Homo sapiens: one gene and its partners. The protein of the gene in region 1 purifies or fractionates together with the protein of each later gene. This does not show direct contact. Each region holds a gene or a part of one and is shown in the gene's direction. Other genes may lie near its edges.

What was found.
Region 2: the proteins of KAT7 (region 1) and KAT6A purify together in Homo sapiens (affinity purification with mass spectrometry, with the first as the bait; one large-scale study listed by BioGRID). This does not show direct contact.
Region 3: the proteins of KAT7 (region 1) and SERPINB5 purify together in Homo sapiens (affinity purification with mass spectrometry, with the first as the bait; one large-scale study listed by BioGRID). This does not show direct contact.
Region 4: the proteins of KAT7 (region 1) and POF1B purify together in Homo sapiens (affinity purification with mass spectrometry, with the first as the bait; one large-scale study listed by BioGRID). This does not show direct contact.

What each region holds. Positions count from the first base shown.
Region 1 is NC_000017.11:49,787,311-49,791,480, forward strand, and holds the start of KAT7 (histone acetyltransferase KAT7), read left to right. Parts: upstream 1-1,370; 5' UTR 1,371-1,524; coding exon 1,525-1,539; intron 1,540-1,752; exon of another isoform or gene 1,753-1,800; intron 1,801-4,170. UniProt on the Homo sapiens protein: Catalytic subunit of histone acetyltransferase HBO1 complexes, which specifically mediate acetylation of histone H3 at 'Lys-14' (H3K14ac), thereby regulating various processes, such as gene transcription, protein ubiquitination, immune regulation, stem cell pluripotent and self-renewal maintenance and embryonic development.
Region 2 is NC_000008.11:42,041,053-42,046,329, reverse strand, and holds part of KAT6A (histone acetyltransferase KAT6A), read left to right. Parts: intron 1-2,754; exon of another isoform or gene 2,755-2,826; intron 2,827-5,277. UniProt on the Homo sapiens protein: Histone acetyltransferase that acetylates lysine residues in histone H3 and histone H4 (in vitro). Component of the MOZ/MORF complex which has a histone H3 acetyltransferase activity. May act as a transcriptional coactivator for RUNX1 and RUNX2.
Region 3 is NC_000018.10:63,482,616-63,487,892, forward strand, and holds part of SERPINB5 (serpin B5), read left to right. Parts: intron 1-1,806; 5' UTR 1,807-1,813; coding exon 1,814-1,981; intron 1,982-4,330; coding exon 4,331-4,468; intron 4,469-5,277. UniProt on the Homo sapiens protein: Tumor suppressor. It blocks the growth, invasion, and metastatic properties of mammary tumors.
Region 4 is NC_000023.11:85,302,231-85,307,507, reverse strand, and holds part of POF1B (protein POF1B), read left to right. Parts: intron 1-231; coding exon 232-345; intron 346-1,174; coding exon 1,175-1,327; intron 1,328-1,597; coding exon 1,598-1,717; intron 1,718-3,036; coding exon 3,037-3,165; intron 3,166-4,019; coding exon 4,020-4,102; intron 4,103-5,277. UniProt on the Homo sapiens protein: Plays a key role in the organization of epithelial monolayers by regulating the actin cytoskeleton. May be involved in ovary development.

The sequences.
Region 1 (4,170 bases):
AACCATTTTCAAATAAGTTCTTACGTGCAGTTCAACCTAAGTAGGTTATCAAAGGTATTTATACTAAGCACTAAAAGCTAAGTATTAAATACTAAAAGCTGCCTGTGTCAACACTGGCCCAGGACATCCCCAAGGAGAGTGCTGGCTAAAGGTCTGGAACTTTAAATCTTTAGAGTTCTTTACTTAGCACATCAATCAGATATTTACCTTCTGCTTCTTTGTTCTTTAGCCCTGCTCCTGGGGGAAATCTCCATCTTAACGGGGCCTCAGTTTGAAATTGGGGTTCGGGATCCTAACTTAATGACTGAGCGTGCCTGGGTTCCACCCAGTCGCAATTGGTCAAGACTTGGTCCTCTCAAGGCCTTTCCTCCGGAGAGGTTAAATCCTCAACGCCTGCTCTCCACTTTCCAGCCTTTTCTTAAGGCTCTTCTTTCAGCCTAGTATCTGTGACCAACTTCTCCTTCCTAGGCCCTCTCATTATTATTTAAATGTCCATTCTTTTGGGGGCTTCAACTTCACTAAAAACATTCCTTCCTCTTCCTCCGCCTCGTAACTCTCTGCTCAAGCATCTGGATGCCAGAGGTCATTTGAGCTAAATGGGGTTCAAAGCTTTTCTGACTCTGGTACTGCATTCCCCACTTTCAAATCACATTTTTCACCCCAGGGCCCCCAGTGGTCTCAAACCCAAACACAGTGCGGTTAGGAAGTGGGCACTCGCCACAGAGCTAAATTGGGAATTATTTGACCTGCAGCTTCTGGAGAATGGTTTTGCCTCCTCCCCGCGACATCAACTAACTCACTTGCTGTTAGCTAAGGGCAAGGACAATGTCTCCTCTACCAGACAGGAAACTTGATGGCGGACGCTATCCGTTAGTTCCTTTTTCAATTCCCCATTCCCACCCCTTCGAGACCACGATGTTTCTTAAAATACAAAGTTTCTTTTACAAAACATCCCTCCGCAACTTTGAGTTTATATAATAAACGGAAACGTCCTTTAAACAATCAGGCTACGAAGGGGTTAAATCTAATCTCAGCAACCTGATGGATTCTGGGGGGTTTCCTTCCTCGACTCTAGAAATTAAAACGAAATTTTGCCCAAGGTAAAGATGAGAACCGTTTACATCAACTGTCAGGCTTCTGCCCCAAACAAGAATGGCTACCCACGCCCACAAACAGAGCCACTCACGTAACTAAAAATGGTTGGCTCCGGGTTCCACCACTGGAGTCACTTTCTGCCCAACTTCAAAATGGCGCCCACTAGCTTCACCAAAAGGATCGAACTTCCCAGCACCCTCTCTGGCCCGTAACGTCAGGTGACGCGAGACCCAGCCGGAAGTGAAGGAAAAAGCGCTTCAGCCCGCGGCGCCTGCGCAGAACGCTCCAGACGCTGAGAGGCAGGAGGCACTAGGGATCGTCCGCAGGATTGGGACTGATACAGAGGCCGCCACGGAGCCCGCCGGAGCCACCGTTCCTGCTGCTGCCGCCGCTGCCCGAATCGGAACCGTCGGGCCGCAGCCGCCGGCAATGCCGCGAAGGAAGGTGAGAAACGGGAGAGGAGGGATGGCGGGTTTCTAAGGACAGTCGATTGAGCACCGTGACGCAGTTGGCCACGCCTCACAGTGCTTGGGTCCCAACTTTCCGCTCCCCCGAACCTTGTTCAGCTACCCTCTCTTCTGTCCATACCCAACAGAAAAATGTGGGCCCGACCCTGGCCTCGGCCTATGCTTGCAACTATTCCCGCCCTCTGCTTGCCTGGATCGGAGGCGTTCTTATTAATTGGTCGCTGAAACGTCTGGAAGCATATTGATTGGCTGGTGACGCCGCCTGTTTGGGCTCAACGGTCACCTCCCCGCGTGCGGGGGCGGTGTCTGGCCCCGGCCCCAGCGCTCTCCCACTGGCTGGAGAGAACGATCCCTCCTCTCCTGATTGGTCGAGGTTGGCAGTCTGTCCTGTGGGGGCGCGGCTTAGGCGGACCTCGATTGGGTGGCCCGAATCCCCGCCTTTCCGAGCGGGGACGCTGATAGGTGCAGAGGCGGGGTTTTGGAGGCCTCGTTACCTTCCAGGTGAGGGGCACAACAAAGCAGAAGACTGGGTGGTGGGAAGCCAGCGCCCACTCGCAGGGGATCCCTCTCAGGCCAGTTGCCTCTTTCCTTATTTGCTAGTTCGACAGCGCCTAGAAAATGCAGTTGGTAAAAACTAAAAACTTCTAGAATTAGAAGGCACTTAGAAGATCACCCAGGAATGGCCCCGTCGTTTCTTCTTACAGCTGAACTAACGGAGGCCCATGGAGTGCCGCAAGCCACTCAGGCAGTGGCAGATCCAGAATATAGAACAAATCTAACTCAATTCAACAAATGTCTATTGACTACTTTCTGCGCGGTGGTTGCTGTGGATTCAGAAATTAATTAGATGTGATCCCTGGCTTAAGGGTGTCACAGCCCGATAGGAGAAAACAGACATGAATAATCTTAGAAGGATCTAGTAAGTTCTCAGCTTGGAGGTGTATACAAGGTGTTGCTGGAAGGAAGTGAAGGAGCAGTTAAGTCTGCCCTGGAGTACAATGGGAGATATATTGGTAAAAGCCACAGAGAAGAGCTGAGTTCCAGGATCAAGCCAGGAAGGAATAAGTCTCACGTCAAGGCTTTAAATATCTCGGTAATTAGACTATAATGGTGACTTTTAAGATTCCCCCTTCATTTCAGCCGTTTTCTGTGATTCTTGCTCATTTCCTGGCAGGTTACCCTTAAGATACTTGGAAAACTGGGTGGTATTCTTGCTCATATCAATAGAAATCTTTCTCTTCACAGCGGCTTTTCAGGTTGAAAATGTACACTTTTTAATGTCTCCTAAAATGACCTCAGCTGGTGGGTGGTATGTATGTGTTTTTTTGTTTGTTTGTTTTTGAGACGAGGTTTTGCTCTTGTTGCCCAGGTCGGAGTGCGATGGCGTGATGTTGGCTCACTGCAACCTCCGCCTCCCGGGTTCAAGCGATTCTCCTGCCTCAGTCTCTCTAGTAGCTGGGATTACAGGCGGATTCCATGACGCCCAGCTAATTTTTGTATGTTTAATAGAGACGGGATTTCACCATGTTGGTCAGGGTGGTTTCGAACTCCTGACCTCAGGTGATCCACCCGCCTCGGCCTCCCAAAGTACTGGGATTACAGGCATGAGCCACCACGCCCGGCCGGTGGTATGTATGTAAAGGCTCACCAAATGCAGGAATAATATTGGTGCCTTGAAATAGGGCCACAGTCCTCTTTCTTAATTTCCCAAATACCGGGAGTTACTTGAAAATGTACATTTTTTTAGTAACCTGTTTGGCGGCAAACCTGTCTTAATCTGTCCTGAGGCTACTTATGGTTTTTGTGTGTCTCATTTAGTGTGACTGTTTATATTTTTTGCTGCAGAAATACTATTATGTTTTGTTATTGGGTGGTATTTGCAGGATACATGCAAAGTACTCCCCTTCTAAAAATCCAAAACAATTACAAATTCTAAACACAACTGGCCCTCAGGGTTTTGAATAAATAATTGGGACTTACAGTGTGAATCTTTGTATTGTTTTCAGTAAATATTTTTTCCTTTCTGGTTTTGTAAAGGGTATAGTGTTAGTGCTTAATTGATAAAAGTTATCTTTATGGCTAAGAAAGAACTCCTCAGGAGGATAATAATTGACAAATCCTTGCTCATTGAAAAGATGGTTTTGAAAACAACTGTTTTTGAATACCCATGAGTCTTCATGTGCAAGCTGCCTTTTTGGAAGATAGATGGCTTTCATGTGGAGAAACGTCAAGGATAGATGGCATACGCACTAACAATTTTCATCTTTTTCTGCTTAAATTCTTTTGGGATTAGAGTTGTGGTCCATGATATTTTGAGATAGTGTATGGTTTTTAAAAAATGTGATAGCTTTTCATGGAGACATTGAACAAAAGCTACTCTAAGTTAAATGAGGTCCAGCACCAACGATTTTCTCACTACAGTGGACCTTTTTTTGTGATATTGATCTCCAAATGGTCTTGGTTAATACTTAGTACTAATACAGTAAGAATTAATTCTCTTCATGGCCGGGTGTGGTGGCTCACGTCTGTAATCCCAGCACTTTGGGAGGCCAAGGCGGGTGGATCACCTGAGGTCAGGTGTTCAAGACCAGCCTGGCCAACATAGTGA
Region 2 (5,277 bases), on another chromosome or scaffold:
TCCTGACCTCGAGTGATCCACCCGCCTCTGCCTCCCAAAGTGTTGGGATTACAGGCTTGAGCCACCGTGCCTGGCCTGTTGTTTGCTTTTATTGTAATTACACTTGCTTGAATTATCAATAGATAATTTTAAAAAATATTAGCTATATAAAAATGTCATTTGAGCATATTTTTAAAAGGTAGTAAATATAGTACAGTGCAAGACAAATCCAAGTCCTAGAACCCTGAGATTTTACTTTTGGAAGGGACCCTGAGAACCGTCTAATCCAAGTCCTTATTTTGCAGCTGAGCTAAGGACCTTTGTTGAGACCATTTCATAGCACCTTTGCATTAAGAAAAGTTTAATTCAGTAGAGATGTGCTGTTTTGCTTTGACTGGAGTGCAGTGGTGTGATCTCAGCTCACTGCAACCTTCGCCTCCCGGGTTCAAGCGATTCTTCTGCCTCAACCTCCTGAGTAGCTGGGATTATAGGTTTGCGCCACCACGTGTGGCTACTTTTTTTTTTTTTTTTTTGTATTTTTAGTAGAGACAGGGTTTCACCATGTTGGCTAGGCTGGTCTCAACTCCTGACCTCAAGCGACCTGCCCACCTCGGTCTCTCAAAGTGCCAAGATTATAGGAATGATCCACCGCACCTGGCCACATTTGATTTTGGAGAAATAAAGCAAGAAAAACAAAAGTGATTTAATAATTGAAAAAATGAAAAAGAAATGCCCATTTGCTTACATAGCTTTCATATATAGTGTTTTTTTGTTTTTTTTTTTTTTTTGAGATGGAATTTCGCTCTTGTTGCCCAGGCTGGAGTGCAGTGGCACGATCTTGGCTTACTGCAGCCTCCGCTGCCCAGGTTCAAGCAATTCTTCCTTCTCAGCCTCCCATGTAGCTGGGATTACAGGCATGCTGACCACCATGCCTGGCTAATTTTGTATTTTTAGTAGAGACGGGGTTTCTCCCTGTTGGTCAGGCTCATCTCGAACTCCCAACCTCAGGTGATCCGCCCACCTTGGCCTCCCAAAGTGCTGGCATTACAGGCATGAGCCACCCTGCCTATAGTGTTAACTGAAGTAACTAAATTTAGACATGTTGGAAAATAGAGTTTGTTTCTTCAGGTAGACTTGTATATGTACTAATCTCATTGGAAAACTAATTTCATGATAGTATCTATTCAATTAGAGTTGGTGAGCTCTGTTCTATATTTTTAAATGGAGTCTTATTTTCAGTAGTGAATTTCCTGTGTGACTTCCCCCAAAGATATGAAAAGTTTACATTAAAAATCGTAATACAGTGAACTCTAGGATGAGAGATTATTCCTTTGAACAGATTATGTCTGCTCCTTTTATTGTATTTTAACTATTTTCTTTCCTCTCCTTCGAACTACGCAGTCAGTTGCTATGCAGAATTGATAGTTTGCTGTTACGAACCTAGATGTTCTCAAAAAAAGAAAAGAATTATCCAGAGTTTATTTGACAGTGATGGAGAAAGGAAGGTGTATAGGTCAGGAGTAGTTTCACTTTTAGGAATTAATTGGTTCAGCATATAGTCATTGAGCACCTACTGTGGGCCAGGCACTCTGCTTGGAACAGAAACAGTTCTGTCTTCTCTGGGATGCTAATGCAGGTATTTCTATTGACCTGGCCAACTGTAAGGTGAAGATGAAATTCAAAGACTGCGTGGAGTAACCCGAGCAAGTTCCTCTTTACTTTTTCTGGTATCAATTCTAACTTTTTGTTTTTTTTTGGTGATATTAACCTTTGGAAGGAACTGTATGTTAGATTTTCGGCAGCTGAGTGGTTTTGATCCTTTTGGGAGATCAACTGTGTTGGAATACGTTTAAGAGGAGTTTTTGTGAAGACATTGGAACTTTAGTGTGTTCTTTTCACATTGATAAGTACTGAGGAGAATCCATGGGATACTGTGATTAAAAGTTTTTAGGCCAGGCCTGGTGGCTCAGGCCTGTAATCCCAGCACTTTGGGATGCCGAGGGGGGGGTGGATCACCTGAGGTCAGGAGTTCAGGACCAGCCTGGCCAATATGGTGAAACCCCATCTCTACAGAATACAAAAATCAGCCCGGCATGATGGTGGGTGCCTGTAATCCCAGCTACTCGGTAGGCTGAGGCAGGATAATCGCTTGAACCCAGGAGGCGGAGGTTGTAGCGAGCCTAGATTGTGCCACTGCACTCCAGCCTGGGCAACAGAGCAAGACTCCATCTCAAAAAAAAAAAAAAAAAAAAGTTTTTACCCATGTTATAAGGGAAATTTTTGAGCTAACTTTAGAGTGTGGTAGTTAATGGTGAGTTTATTTATTAAAGTGTTTATTTACTATGTGCCAGGCGTTATTTTAATGCTGTATATATATTAACTCATTTAATCCTCTAACATAACTAGCTACTGTTAGGTTAGTTAGTTATTAATAACATAACAGTACCAGCAGTGAAATAGCTACTGTTATTTTACAGGTGAAGAAACTGAGGCATAAAAGAGATTTCAGTAACTTGCTGAAGTCACACAAATATTAGGTGGCAGAGCTGGGATTTGAATTTGGGCAGTCTGGCTCCAGAGTCTTTGTAATAGCCATACTGACCACCTCTTAGGAGCAGTAATGTATGATGGCTATCACTGCACTCAAGTACAGAATCGTGAATGTCCTTGGTGTTAACTTCATAGCACATTTCCTAATTGTTAAAGGACAAATTCCCGCCCGTCTTCATTGTGTCCATTTTTCTTTTTTTGCAGAACAGATTTGAAAATTCACTTTGGACCAGTGATAAGAATGTGTTAGGAACCAAAGATTAGGAGTAATCTAGTTTTGTATATCTGAGGTCCATTAAAAAAAAGTTTCACCTACATGCCATTTTTTTCCCTTAAAGATAATTTCTGTGCTAACTAATTTTCATTTCAGTTGTCACTAACATTTTCTGATAGGCAAGGTAGGGATCAGTTGTATTGCTATACCAGAGTGCTTTAATTTGGGACAGAAATACTGTTTTCCTTGAATCATGGGATTATAGGTGAGGAGAAGAGTGTGTAACTGGCTTAAATAGCATCTTCCTCTTTGTAAATTTCTTTTTGAAATATAGATATTACTGTAAGGTAATTTGTTCCATTTACTTCAGTTATTCATTATTTATTTAGCAAACATTTGAATGCCTGCCATGAACAGTGGATTTAAGATTTAGGTCCTGTGAGGGGATTAAAGCAGACAGAATAGAGATACAAAATAAATTTTTTGAAAGCCTTTTTTAGTTTATGAACTGTAATTTTTTTACATTATTATTTTTTCATAACAATTAAGTATCATGACTCAGAAATAATAATATGTTTAGTGGGCAAGGCAATTATTTGAGACTGTGATGGTCCATTTAAAAAATTATCTTTATATAGTGAGTCTTGGAAAGATTCAATTTCCTTTCAAGAATAGTTTTCACCTTGATTTCAAACTTCTGAGTTCATTTTTACACACTGACATAATTTACTTGAATATATATAGTTTGTGTTCTGTATTACTAGCCCAGAAAAATATTCTCTTTCATGGTAATCAGCCAGATCATTAAAAGTATTGTTATTTGGTGGCATAGTATTTTGGAACAGAATTATAATTTGCTAAAGCGTTCAGTTGGACAGGGAAGAGTAGGTATTGTCAACTAATGTTATTGTTCAGGTTACTCCCAGCTGGGTAACCTGGAGCAGAAAGATCCAATGATAAATCTCTTGCCTTCTACTCTAAGTTACATCTCAATTTGGTCAACTCTTAGTAGAGTCCAAATTATTTTGTTTTATTGGAATTTATATTTTAAATTATAGAGGAAGTAGAGCTTTGACAGGAATTTAGAATTTAAATTTTCGATGTAGAGATACTGATTAAAATGGGGATTTTTTTTTTTTTTTTGAGAGATGGAGTCTTGCTTTGTTGCCCAGGCTGGAGTGCAGTGGTGCAACCTCCACCTCCTGGGTTCAAGCGATTCTCCTGCCTCAGCCTCCCGAGTAAGCTGGGATTATAGGCGCATGCCACCATGCCCGGCTAATTTTTATATTTTTAGTAGAGATGGGGTTTCACCAGGTTGGCCAGGCTGGTCTCGAACTCCTGACCTCATGATCCGCCTGCCTCGGCCTCCCAGAGTGCTGGGATTATAGGCGTGAGCCACCGTGCCCGGCCAGGGATATGTTTTTAAGTTACTGAAAGTTAAGAGTGATGAAGTTTTGATTTAGCTATTTGGAAATGACCTTTATAGTAGAATAGTTGCACATTTTATATGTTAGAATGGTGGTATTTTATAAGAAAATTGTTAACCAATATAAGCTTGGAAATTTCAATTTCAATTACTCTGTTGCGTTGATACTGTATAAAAAGGCAATAAATAGTTGTCCATGCTATTAAATTCAGGGCTATGTGGACTGCTTGACAGAATGATTGTTCACTTTGGAAAAACAAAAAAAACAAAAAATCTTCTGAAGGCAAAAGATAAAATATTGAGGATACAGTGACGTGGAAAATGTAGCTATTATCAAGTGTGAAATGGATTGATCTCAGTAATTGTTATATTTAATAATTTAAACATTTTTTATGACATGCATTTCTTTTCTTTTTTTTTTTTGAGATGGAGTCTTGCTCTGTTGCTTAGGCTGGAGTGCGGTGGCCCAGTTTCAGCTCACTGCAACCTCCGCCTTCCAGGTTGAAGCAATTCTACTGCCTCTCCCCTCCTGCTGTCTGCGATTACAGGCGTGTGCCACCATACCTACCTAATTTTTGTATTTTTAATAGAAATGGGGTTTCACCATGTTGGCCAGTTGTGTTCTCGAACTCCTGACCTCAGGTGATCCGCCCACCTCCGCCTCCCAAAGTGCTAGGATTACAGGCGTCAGCCACCATGCCCGGCCCATGCCGTACATTTCTGACATCATTGTTTATACCATTTGTTTGTGACTCCAAATGTACCAGGAGCAGTGGCCTAGAAATAAAAATTTGTTACTAACAAGTCATTGAGGTGGATTAATTGTAAATCTGGTTAGGAATTAATTTTGTCTTAGCAGATTTATTCTTCAAAAATTCAGAAATTTAAAAATAACTCAGAGATATGTTTGTAAAATAGTATCTGTTTAAGTACAATCAGCTGCACAGTTTTTTTTTTTTTTTTTTTTTGAGACGGAATCTCACTCTTGCCCAGACTGGAGTGCAGTGGCGCAACCTTGGCTCACTGCAACCTCTGCCTCCCAGGTTCAAGTGATTCTCCTGCCTCAGTCTCCCAAATAGCTGGGATTACAGGCATGCGCCACCATGCC
Region 3 (5,277 bases), on another chromosome or scaffold:
ATCAGTAACTACCAGACTAAATAGGTAGGTAGACCTTTATTAGAACAGTGAAGCTTTTTAAATCTGAGGACCCTGTTACACTCTTAAAAATTACCGAGGACCCCAAAGAACTGTTTCTTTAAAAAAAATGTAGATTATATCTATCACTATTTACCAAACTAGAAATGAAAACCAGACACATTTTGAAATGTTCATTTACTAATTTATTAAAATAATATAATAATTAAATACTAATATGAATAATATATATATTAAAAAACATTTTCTAAAGTGAAAAAATGTAATGAGAAGAGTGATATTGTTTTTCATTTTTGCAAATCTCCTTAATATTTGGCTTAATAGAAGGGATGTCATATAGCCTCTGGAAAACTCCGCTGTCTATTAGAGATTGAGAATGATAATGTCTTAGTATTATCATGAGAATAGTTTTAACCTCATGGACCTCCTGAAAGGGTGTTAGGGACTGCCAGGAGTCAAGACACAACACTTTGGAAGTTGCTGTGTTAAAATTAAAGAGCTCTGAGATGTGACAAGATGCCTAGTTGCTGCTATATCCACTTTACCAGGCTACATATTTTGAAACTGTTCCCTCTTTTCTTTAACTCCCATATTACTTATTATACCACTCACATGTCTTGGGCAGCTCTGTATTCTAGTTATTTGTCTGCATATCTGCCCAAAGAGACTATGAGCTTAGAGAAGGAGGAGGTCCACTGATCCTTGTAACACTCTGGGTAGTGTCTTACACACAGATGCGTATTATAAACGCAAACAATAACCGCTGCTGTTTATTAAGTATTGTTATGTGCTGGGTGTCCTGCAAAGGCATTAGTTACTTTAAGGGTTTTCTAGCACTTCTCACAAAGCACCACAAACCAGGCAGCTTAAAGCAACAGAAGCTTTATTCACCCACAGGCTTGGAGGCCAGTACTTTGAAATGACGATGTCGGCAGGGTCATGCTGTCTCAAAAGGCTCCAGGGGAGAATGTTCCATGACTTTCTCTTGGTTTCTGGTGTTGCCAGCAGTTCTTAGCATTCTTTGGCTTGTGGAAGCATCCCTCCAATCTCTGCCTCCATTGCCATACGGCATGCCCTTCACACAGGTGAAGACATTTGTGTCTTCACATCTTCCCTCTGTGTATGTCTGTTTCTGTGTCTCTCCTCTTATTCCTTTAAGGACACCAGTCATATCGGATTAGGGCTCACCTAACTCCAATGTAACTTCATCTTAACTAATTATATATTAGTTAAGAAATAGGACATACCCTGTTTCCACGTAAGGTCACATTCACAGGTAATGGGGATTAGGACTTAACATATCTTTTTGGGGGACACAATTCAACCCATTACACTTACTAAATATTAAACTGAACAATGCAAAACTGCTGCAATTCGACTGTTTTTGTTTTATAAAAGTTTTAACTTTGTAGTTTAACTGAAATCCTAATGGAAACAATATGTGATAAATAAAACCAACTGATGTTGATTAGTGCTGTCAACTTTTCTGACATATGCTGGAGAAGAGATGTGACCACTGGGCTCCCGACAATGGCCACTGTGGCTGAGCAGGCCCAAGACTGCAGAGTCTAGGCAGAGCTGGACACACAGAGGACCTCACATGCCTTCAGACATTTGCCTGGAAGTTTCTTCACAACTGATCTTACTTTTGAATTTACAGAAAGTTCCTTGTTTCTTCTGAGATCAATTACTTTGTTTAAATAGAATTCTTATAGTGTTGGCAGAATGCAGTTGAGAAGACGTTAAAGATGCTTTAGAAACTAACTGCTCCCTTGTCCTTGCTTCCAGGCCCGCAATGGATGCCCTGCAACTAGCAAATTCGGCTTTTGCCGTTGATCTGTTCAAACAACTATGTGAAAAGGAGCCACTGGGCAATGTCCTCTTCTCTCCAATCTGTCTCTCCACCTCTCTGTCACTTGCTCAAGTGGGTGCTAAAGGTGACACTGCAAATGAAATTGGACAGGTAAGCCCCAAAACCTTGTTTCTACTTTAAGTGGGAATACAGTTATTAGAACCCATAGGCAGTGCCTACGGAAAAAAGGAATGTAGACTTTGTGGCCAGAATTGGTCAAGATTCAGAACTGTGCCATTCCAGGACTCTCTTAATCTTTTTTTTTTTTTTTTTTTTTTGTGAGACAGGGTCCCACTCTGTCACCCATGCTGGAGTGCAGTGGTGCGATGTTGGCTCACTGCAGCCTCCAGGTTCAAGCGATTGTTGTGCCTCAGCCTGCCGAGTAGCTGGGATGACAGGCGCGTGCCACAACGCCAGGCAAATTTTTGTATTTTTAGTAGAGACAGGGTTTCACCATGTGGCCAGGCTGGTCTCGAACTCCTGACTTCAGGTGATCCGCCTGCCTCGGCCTCCCAAAATGCTGGGATTACAGGCATCTTAATTTATTTTTAAATGTGAAAGCTCGCTTGTAGGTAATGCAACTCACATCTGGGACAGGCACCAGGCTGTGATGGAGAACCTGGAGATCTGCTGGGTAATCACAGCTTTTTCATTCTGACTTATAATATTTTCAATTTACAATGGTTTTATTGAGATGTAACCTCATCATAAATCAAGCAGCATCTGTATCGTTTTAGGGTTTCTTTCTGGCTATGGTTGATTATCTAGCTTTGTAAAGTTCTTAGACCTTCAAATGAGACAATTTTCCTGATTGTTCCGTTTTAAGTCCTCATGTACTTTTACATAATAGGTGAATGTTCTTCTAATTCTATTTCATTATTACTCTTATGCTAATCATTCTAGGTTCAATAGAATTTCTTTTCTATTAGCTCATAAGCATTTAAAAAGGCAACACCTTCTTGTATTCATATGTGTCCAGAAAGTATGGCCCATAAGAGTTATTTAGGTAAGGATGAAGAATTTACACTTGGGACTTGAAGCAGCTTCACTCCTGTGAAGAGGAGATGTATCTTGACATCAAGCCACATCTCTGAACTGCGCAACTCCACTATCCCTACCCAATCTCCCATTCCTCATTTCTCATCTACCATTAGAGAAAGGCCAGCGAAAGAGAACTTCCGGGTAGTGGGTCTGTTCCTCAGTAATTCCTCAAGCTCTTCTCAGTATATGCAACTGGTTCCCCAGCAGTAGTTACCTGGGCTCTTAAATTTTCTGGTCTCCTTCATCCATCTTTAGGCATGAGAGTTATGCACTGTCTGGGACCAGCATTTGACCCTGCAATGCTGAGGCTATGTAATTCATTGGGACAATGTGCCGGTTTGGCAGCGTTCGTTATCTGGGTTGTGGAATCACAGCATGGCCATTATGAGTTATGGAGCGAGGAGGGTGTCATCTTATGCTGACATTACATGTTGTGGTGTTGCAAGGCAGAAAAGATGCTGGACTATTGGTTGGAACAATAAAAAAAAAAAAGGAAAAAAATACAATGATTTAAGCCCTCCAAATGATAGTATCCTGGTTTTAAATGGCTTACAATATTATTACAAGAATAATTAACAGTTTGAATCCATATAATATTTTACGTGTTTTACATATAAGTAATCCTCATTAACAACTCAGGAAAGCAGGTATTTTCAGCCCATTTTACGGAGAGGAAAGGAGGCTCTGAAGAGTTGGAGAAGATTCTCTGAAGAGTTGGAGAAGAGGTGGTGAAGGCTGGGATTCACAGGCAGGGCCATCTGACTCTAGCCAGCCCAGGGCAGCCCACCATTTATTGTAGCTGCCCATCAGAAATGACACATCTATTTACCTGGCATTTGCTAAAGCACCCAGAGGGACTAGACAGACTCTGGCTAGAGGCACTTGTCCTGAAATCTGATTCCTGCCTGATGATGGTGTCTCTTGTATCAATCTCTCTCTCTGGTCTTTGAATTGGATAGAAATTATAACCCAGCTTCATCGTTCTCCAAGTTTGGAAATCCTTCTGTGTGAGTATTAAGGGCATCACTTTGAAGAAAGGACAAATGTTCTCGATGGTTGATTTGGAAGAGTACCTTTATGGTAGTGTTTCTCAGTGGGGACAATTTGTCCTCCCCTTCCCACTCTGGGATAATCTGGCAATGTCTGGAGACATTCTGGGTTCTCACAAATAGGAGGAGGATGCCACTGGCATCTAGTAGGTCAGCGATGCTGCTAAGCATCCTGCAGTGCCCAGGACAGCCCCACAAAGACTCATCCAGCCTGAATGTCAATAGTGCTGAGGTTGAGGAGCCTTACTTTACGGGAACTAGGCAGGAGGAGTCTGTATGCCCAAGGACGTTGGTCATTATCACGTGTCCACTTCAGTACAGCACTACTCAGAGGCAATGCTTTTTGGGTAACGGATTTTTCTCTTAACAGGTTCTTCATTTTGAAAATGTCAAAGATGTACCCTTTGGATTTCAAACAGTAACATCGGATGTAAACAAACTTAGTTCCTTTTACTCACTGAAACTAATCAAGCGGCTCTACGTAGACAAATCTCTGAATCTTTCTACAGTAAGTTGTTTAAAGCAAGTAGCAAGACTTAACTTTTTACAAGGAGTGGCATTTTCATGCTGTTAGACCTACAACTTTTTTTCAGTGAAATTCCTTTCTAGGATGTTCACTTGTGATTTGAGGCTTTAAATAAATAAATCCTAGTGGAGAGGTTGAGTATAGTGGGAATCAATTGCAGTCACATCTTCTAACTCAAAATACAGAGAAGCTTATGGGCTTTCCTTTTCTCTCTCAAATAAATCTTACCCTTTCTTTTACCTTCCTCTGAGAGAATGGAGAACAGAGTAATTAACTCTCTAATAAATGTAGCTCCATAGACAATGAGCTGTCTTACAGAGTGTAAGACAGCTAATGATTTAAACTTCTTTCTCCTTAAAGAGCAGGGCATATGGCCTGGGACAATGTTTTAAGCTCTCCACCTCATTTTTTATGCACACATTCTTCTGATGTTTCTCAAAATCAGTAAGAAAAATAATAACTATGAATTCACAATTTTCATCAGTCACAAATTAGTTTTGTTGGCTGGGCTGGTCAGATGGGGATCTCCACAGGCAGCTCTGGTTATATAAGTTTAGCCATTGCTCTAAGGAATCATACAAACACCACTACGGTACCCATTGTTGTAATATTTAAAAATCTGTATTTGAAACACACAGACAATATTCTAGACTACATGAAGTTTCCCTCTGTACTTCAGTAACACAGAGTTGATTTAGTTCCTGTTTGGATGGTCAGAATTTCAAGGTTTCCAAATCGAAAAGCTAGACTACCAGCTTTTAAATATTTTACCATGATTTTGCAACTTTCTG
Region 4 (5,277 bases), on another chromosome or scaffold:
GCTTCATTTCATGTATAGTTAGTCCATCAAAATGTCTCTTTCAATGAAGGTTTTAGAAGTTTCAATCATTTCCTATCCCGTATTTTCTTAACTTTTAAGAATTCTGCTTTATTAAGCAAGTACAAATGAAACAAGTGCTTATTTAAATCTTCCAAGGTAAGCAAGTCTTTGTATTATGTGACTGTTAAGTTTTTGCAATTCTGAATCATAATAAATAATTTATGCTTCTAGTCACTGGAAAATGACAAGATGAGACTTGAGAAAGATTTATCATTCAAAGACACTCAATTAAAAGAGTACGAAGAACTCTTGGCATCAGTGAGAGCAAATAATCACCAGCAGCAGGTAAACTGATGCTTTTATTGGTGTTAATCTACATTGATAGCTTTTCATATGCACAATTACTGGCACATTGGAGTTATGAGATATAATCAAGACAGAATTAAATATGATGGAAAAATTTGTTCATATGAGAATTGAGTGGCTTTGGGTATTTCTAATGGCTGAAAGCCCTCTCAGAAAAACAGATAATCTTATCTATTTTAGATATAAAGTACATATGGGACACAATTATTTGTCTTGTTGGGTGACCAGAATTGTAGAAATACTAAAAATCTAGGTTCATGCATTTATTTAATGTACTAACATGTCAATGAGAAAAGCTGTTGTAGACCTTAATACATGTTTGTGCAATAAATAAATGACTGAAAAAACTCTAGATGAATTCTCTGGATGTCTGAGCAGAGAGAATTCCTAGGAAATTGTAAGTAGTCTCTAAGGATTACCCTCTTCCTGATCTTTACTCCTATGGCTGTCCCAAATTCTTGCTCAGTTACTAGTTGTCATGTAAATAATCAGGCATATGGTCGTTTCTGTGCCTACTAGAAAGCAGGGTACAGTATTGTCACAGAGTAGCAAGAGTCTGATTGTTAAATTGAGACATTATAAATTCATCTAGTCATGATTCCCTCTCTCACAAAATAGATGAGTGAGACTAGAGGCAACACTATAATATCTTACATGGGTGACTTAATGTACCATCTAAGACCCAGAGTATAAGAAAACTGGGCATAGGAAAATATTTACTTGATTCAATTGAATGAATCAATAAAAAGAACACTCCCTCACCAAAAACAAAATGCATTTGTCTTATGTACTTGTGTCTTCTTTACAGCAAGGACTTCAAGACTCAAGTTCAAAATGCCAGGCATTGGAAGAAAACAATCTCTCTCTTCGACATACACTATCAGACATGGAATACAGACTAAAAGAACTGGAATATTGTAAACGTAATTTAGAGCAAGAGAATCAAAACCTTAGAATGCAGGTATTAAAACTTCCTTTTAAATATACAGTATTACCTTAGTTACATCATTGTAATCCTAGCATTTAGAAAACATATGGACTGCTTTCCCTCACATACTGTTAGATCTTAATCACTGACATTTGAGCTTTATAATGCAGTTCCTGAAAATCACTTTCATTATTTCAATGTCTTATTTAATCATGTGGTTTTCATCTAATAACAATCCTTGTAACATAACATGTATTTTCTTCAAAACAATCCAATTACAGATAGTTATTTTGCCTTCTGTAGGTTTCTGAGACTTGCACAGGCCCAATGTTGCAGGCTAAAATGGATGAGATTGGCAACCACTACACGGAGATGGTAAAAAACTTGAGAATGGAGAAAGATAGAGAGATCTGCAGACTGAGGGTATGTTGATCCTACATTGCATAAATACACAGGTCAGCACAAACTTTCTAGCAAGATAATGATGGCTTCAAGTTTAAAGCTACCAGAAAAAATTAGCTGAAGGTAGAGTTTTAGAAATATGTCATGTATTCATTTGTTTTAAATACATTACTGTATCTAAAATATAACTGTTAAATGATTTTCTAATTTAGCTTAATTTCTTCTAGGAAAGTAAAAGAAGATATTCATTTCAGTGGTTTGGTTTTGGTTTTTATTAATTTATTTTTTGGGATAGATGGAGGACTCTTCATGATCTTGCCTAAAGCATGCTTATGTAGGCAAAAGCAATATATGAAATTACTCAACAGAGCCATAGTTAGATTTGTAAAAATTCTCACTTAATTTCGAGGGATGATGAATAGCAAGGACTTTGTCAAGCATGAGGAGGAAAACAGTGTTAAGTTTTAGGTACCTATAGTTGACATCAAAATTAAGGTGATATTTATAAGTATATATTGCCTTAACTTGTAATTCTAGGTTGAATTTACTTAATCTAACCCTTATTTTACTGATTCCTAAAGGTAGTAAAATATACTTAAATATTTTAATAAACAAAATAATCACAAATTTGTCTCTCCAAACATCACTGTATAATTTTTACCAAAAATCAAAATGAAACAAAATATAATTTGTTTTCCAAACCTACCAATACTTCTAGCAGATTTCCTCCACTGATTTCTTTTCCATTCCAACATTACTAACAGCACTTCTACCTAAGCTACACACATATGAGGTAAAGAGGGAAATGGACAAGATTTGTAGTCAGAAGACCTGTTTTGGAGTTGCAGCTATGTTACTGCGTGACTGTGTCATTTAACCTCTCTGGAGCCCATTATCTGTTTTGTAAATGAAGATTATAATAATGCTTATTTCATGGGACTGCTGTGAGAACTGAGATAATTCATGCAGGAGGAATATTTTGTGAACTGAAAATCAGAATATAATAGTAGTAATTTGTTATTGCTATTTCCTTAATTATTATTTCAAGGACTCTAAAGTGCCTGTTTTCTTAGCTTTACTTTAAATTTTGTGGCCTAAGACTGTTACGTAGATAATGTTTAGTCCTACATAGCAAAGACACCTTAAAAAAAGGAGAAATTTGTAATTGGCATTTCATTTCATATTACATACTCATGAAATTCTTCGAACGTTTATGACTATTGGTATTTTACTTTCATTTCATAACTGTGTGAGTTTGTGTCACTTAACCTCCCTGGAACTCAGTTACACATTTTCTATATGAAGATTATAATAATATTTATTTCTTTTTAAATCCTTAGTCCCAATTAAACCAGTACCATAAAGATGTTTCAAAGAGAGAAGGAAGTTGTAGTGACTTCCAATTTAAGCTTCATGAACTGACAAGCTTGCTGGAAGAGAAGGATTCCCTCATAAAGCGTCAGTCAGAGGTATAAAAGGAAGGGGTGGGGATGGAGAAAAGTAATACAACTTAGTACTGTAGTACTGTAGGATAAATACTTCCCATGGACTAGAAAAGGACACATATCCAAGAGTCACTTTATTTAATGAAATAAAATGTAGGTGCAAGTGAGGAAGTAGAATATACATATTTCAGGAGACACAATTCAAATGAAAGTTACAATTGAAGCAAAAAATAAGTGCTGTTATACATTTAATATTTTTAAGACATTGATTTTATATTTCATTAGCAGTGAAATTCCCAGTAGACTGTGACCTCCTTACTACATTATGAGCTGCTTCATTAAAGCATGTGTTATATTCCTCCTTGTATCTGTAGCATGTAGCCCATGACCTGGCATTCAATAGGTACTGAAGGAATTGTCAAAAATTATGGGTAATATTGTATTGCTGTTATGGAGCAAATGGTGCTTGTAGTAACATTCATTGATAAACTCTCTCTTAAGAAACTATATCTGCTTATATATTGAAGTTTCAATACTTTTCTTCTATGGATATACTTTTCAGGCTTTTCAGAGCAAAAACTTTCACATCCTCATCCTGAGAACCACGCCCATTCAATCTCAAGTTATCCTCCAAATTTAGATATCCTGTATCAGTTGCAGGTTCCTGCACCGGCATATAATATAACTTATTAGGTACTGTGAAGCAACACTAGGTGATATTCAACAAGTGGGATTAGAACATTATTACGTCAAGGCTAAAAAGGGGTAAAAGGGAGGGGGTATAATCATTGTTAGTAACCCTTCTAAATGATTAAATATATTTATTATCTCATGTTTCTACTTTCCATCAAATGATTATATTATCTTTTATTTGTAAGGAACTCTCCAAGTTGCGGCAAGAAATATATTCCTCTCATAACCAACCCTCCACTGGTGGAAGGACTACTATTACCACTAAAAAGTAATGTATTTTTAAATGAAATTTGAATATAAAAATTATGATCATATAATCCAAGTTATTTCATGTTTAATTGGTATATACAAGCTAGACAGAGTTTGGTGTTTTCTGCTGGCCAGTTATTCTACTGAAGAATGAATATTCACAAAAAGACATCACTATTGTGGTCAAAAAAATCCTGAAGCACATCTTTCCTGAATTTACAATATATTAATTACCTTGGAAGTGAAAAACAAATAATTGTTTTTTTAACCAACCACATTAGTTAGGACTCTTTCTGTTTCATGTGACAAGAGACCCAATGTAAACTGGGACTTTTTAAATTCACTTAAATGGGGTTACTTGGTATCCAGATGGATTTGTGTGTTCAAAATATGCCTTTATAAATATGTCTTTCTTTATATCTTGGCTCTGCTCTTTCCTGTGTAGACATCTTAATCAGGTAAGGTCTACCCTCACGGTAGCAATATGACCACAAATTACATTCCAGCCATTTAGCAAAACCAAATATAAAGTAATTATGAATAGCTTCAGCAGAAGTCTATTTTGGATATTTCATATAAATGAAATAATACAACATATAGTCTTTTGTGTCTGGATTTTTCATTTTGCATAATGTTTGCAGGATGCAAGCATGATTTAGCATGAGTCAAGACTTCATTCCTTTTGGTTGCTAAATAATATCCAGTTGTATGGATATACATTTTATTTATTGATTAATCAGTTGGACATTTGGGTTGTTTTCAATTTTTGGCTATTGTGAATAATGCTGCTGTGAACGTCTGTGTACAAGTGTGTAAGGTACATGTATTCATTTCTTTTGAGTATATACCTAGGAGTGGAATTGATAGGTCACATGATAACTCTATGCTTAAGGAATTGCCATACTGTTTTCTAAAGCAAAAGCACCATCATACATTCCTAGTAGTGTATGACGGTTCCACTTTCTCCCCATCCTCGTTGCCATTTGTTATTGTTCATCTCTTGGATTATGGCCATCCTAGGTGGTGGAAAGTGGTATCCAATTGGAGTTTTGATTTGTATTCCCTAATAACTAATGTTTTTTAGCAATTTTTATGTGCTTATTGGCCATTTATACATCTTGTTTGAAGAAATGTCCATTCAATTTTTTTCCATTTTTTAAGTGAGTTGTCTTTTTATAGTTGAATTGCAAGAGA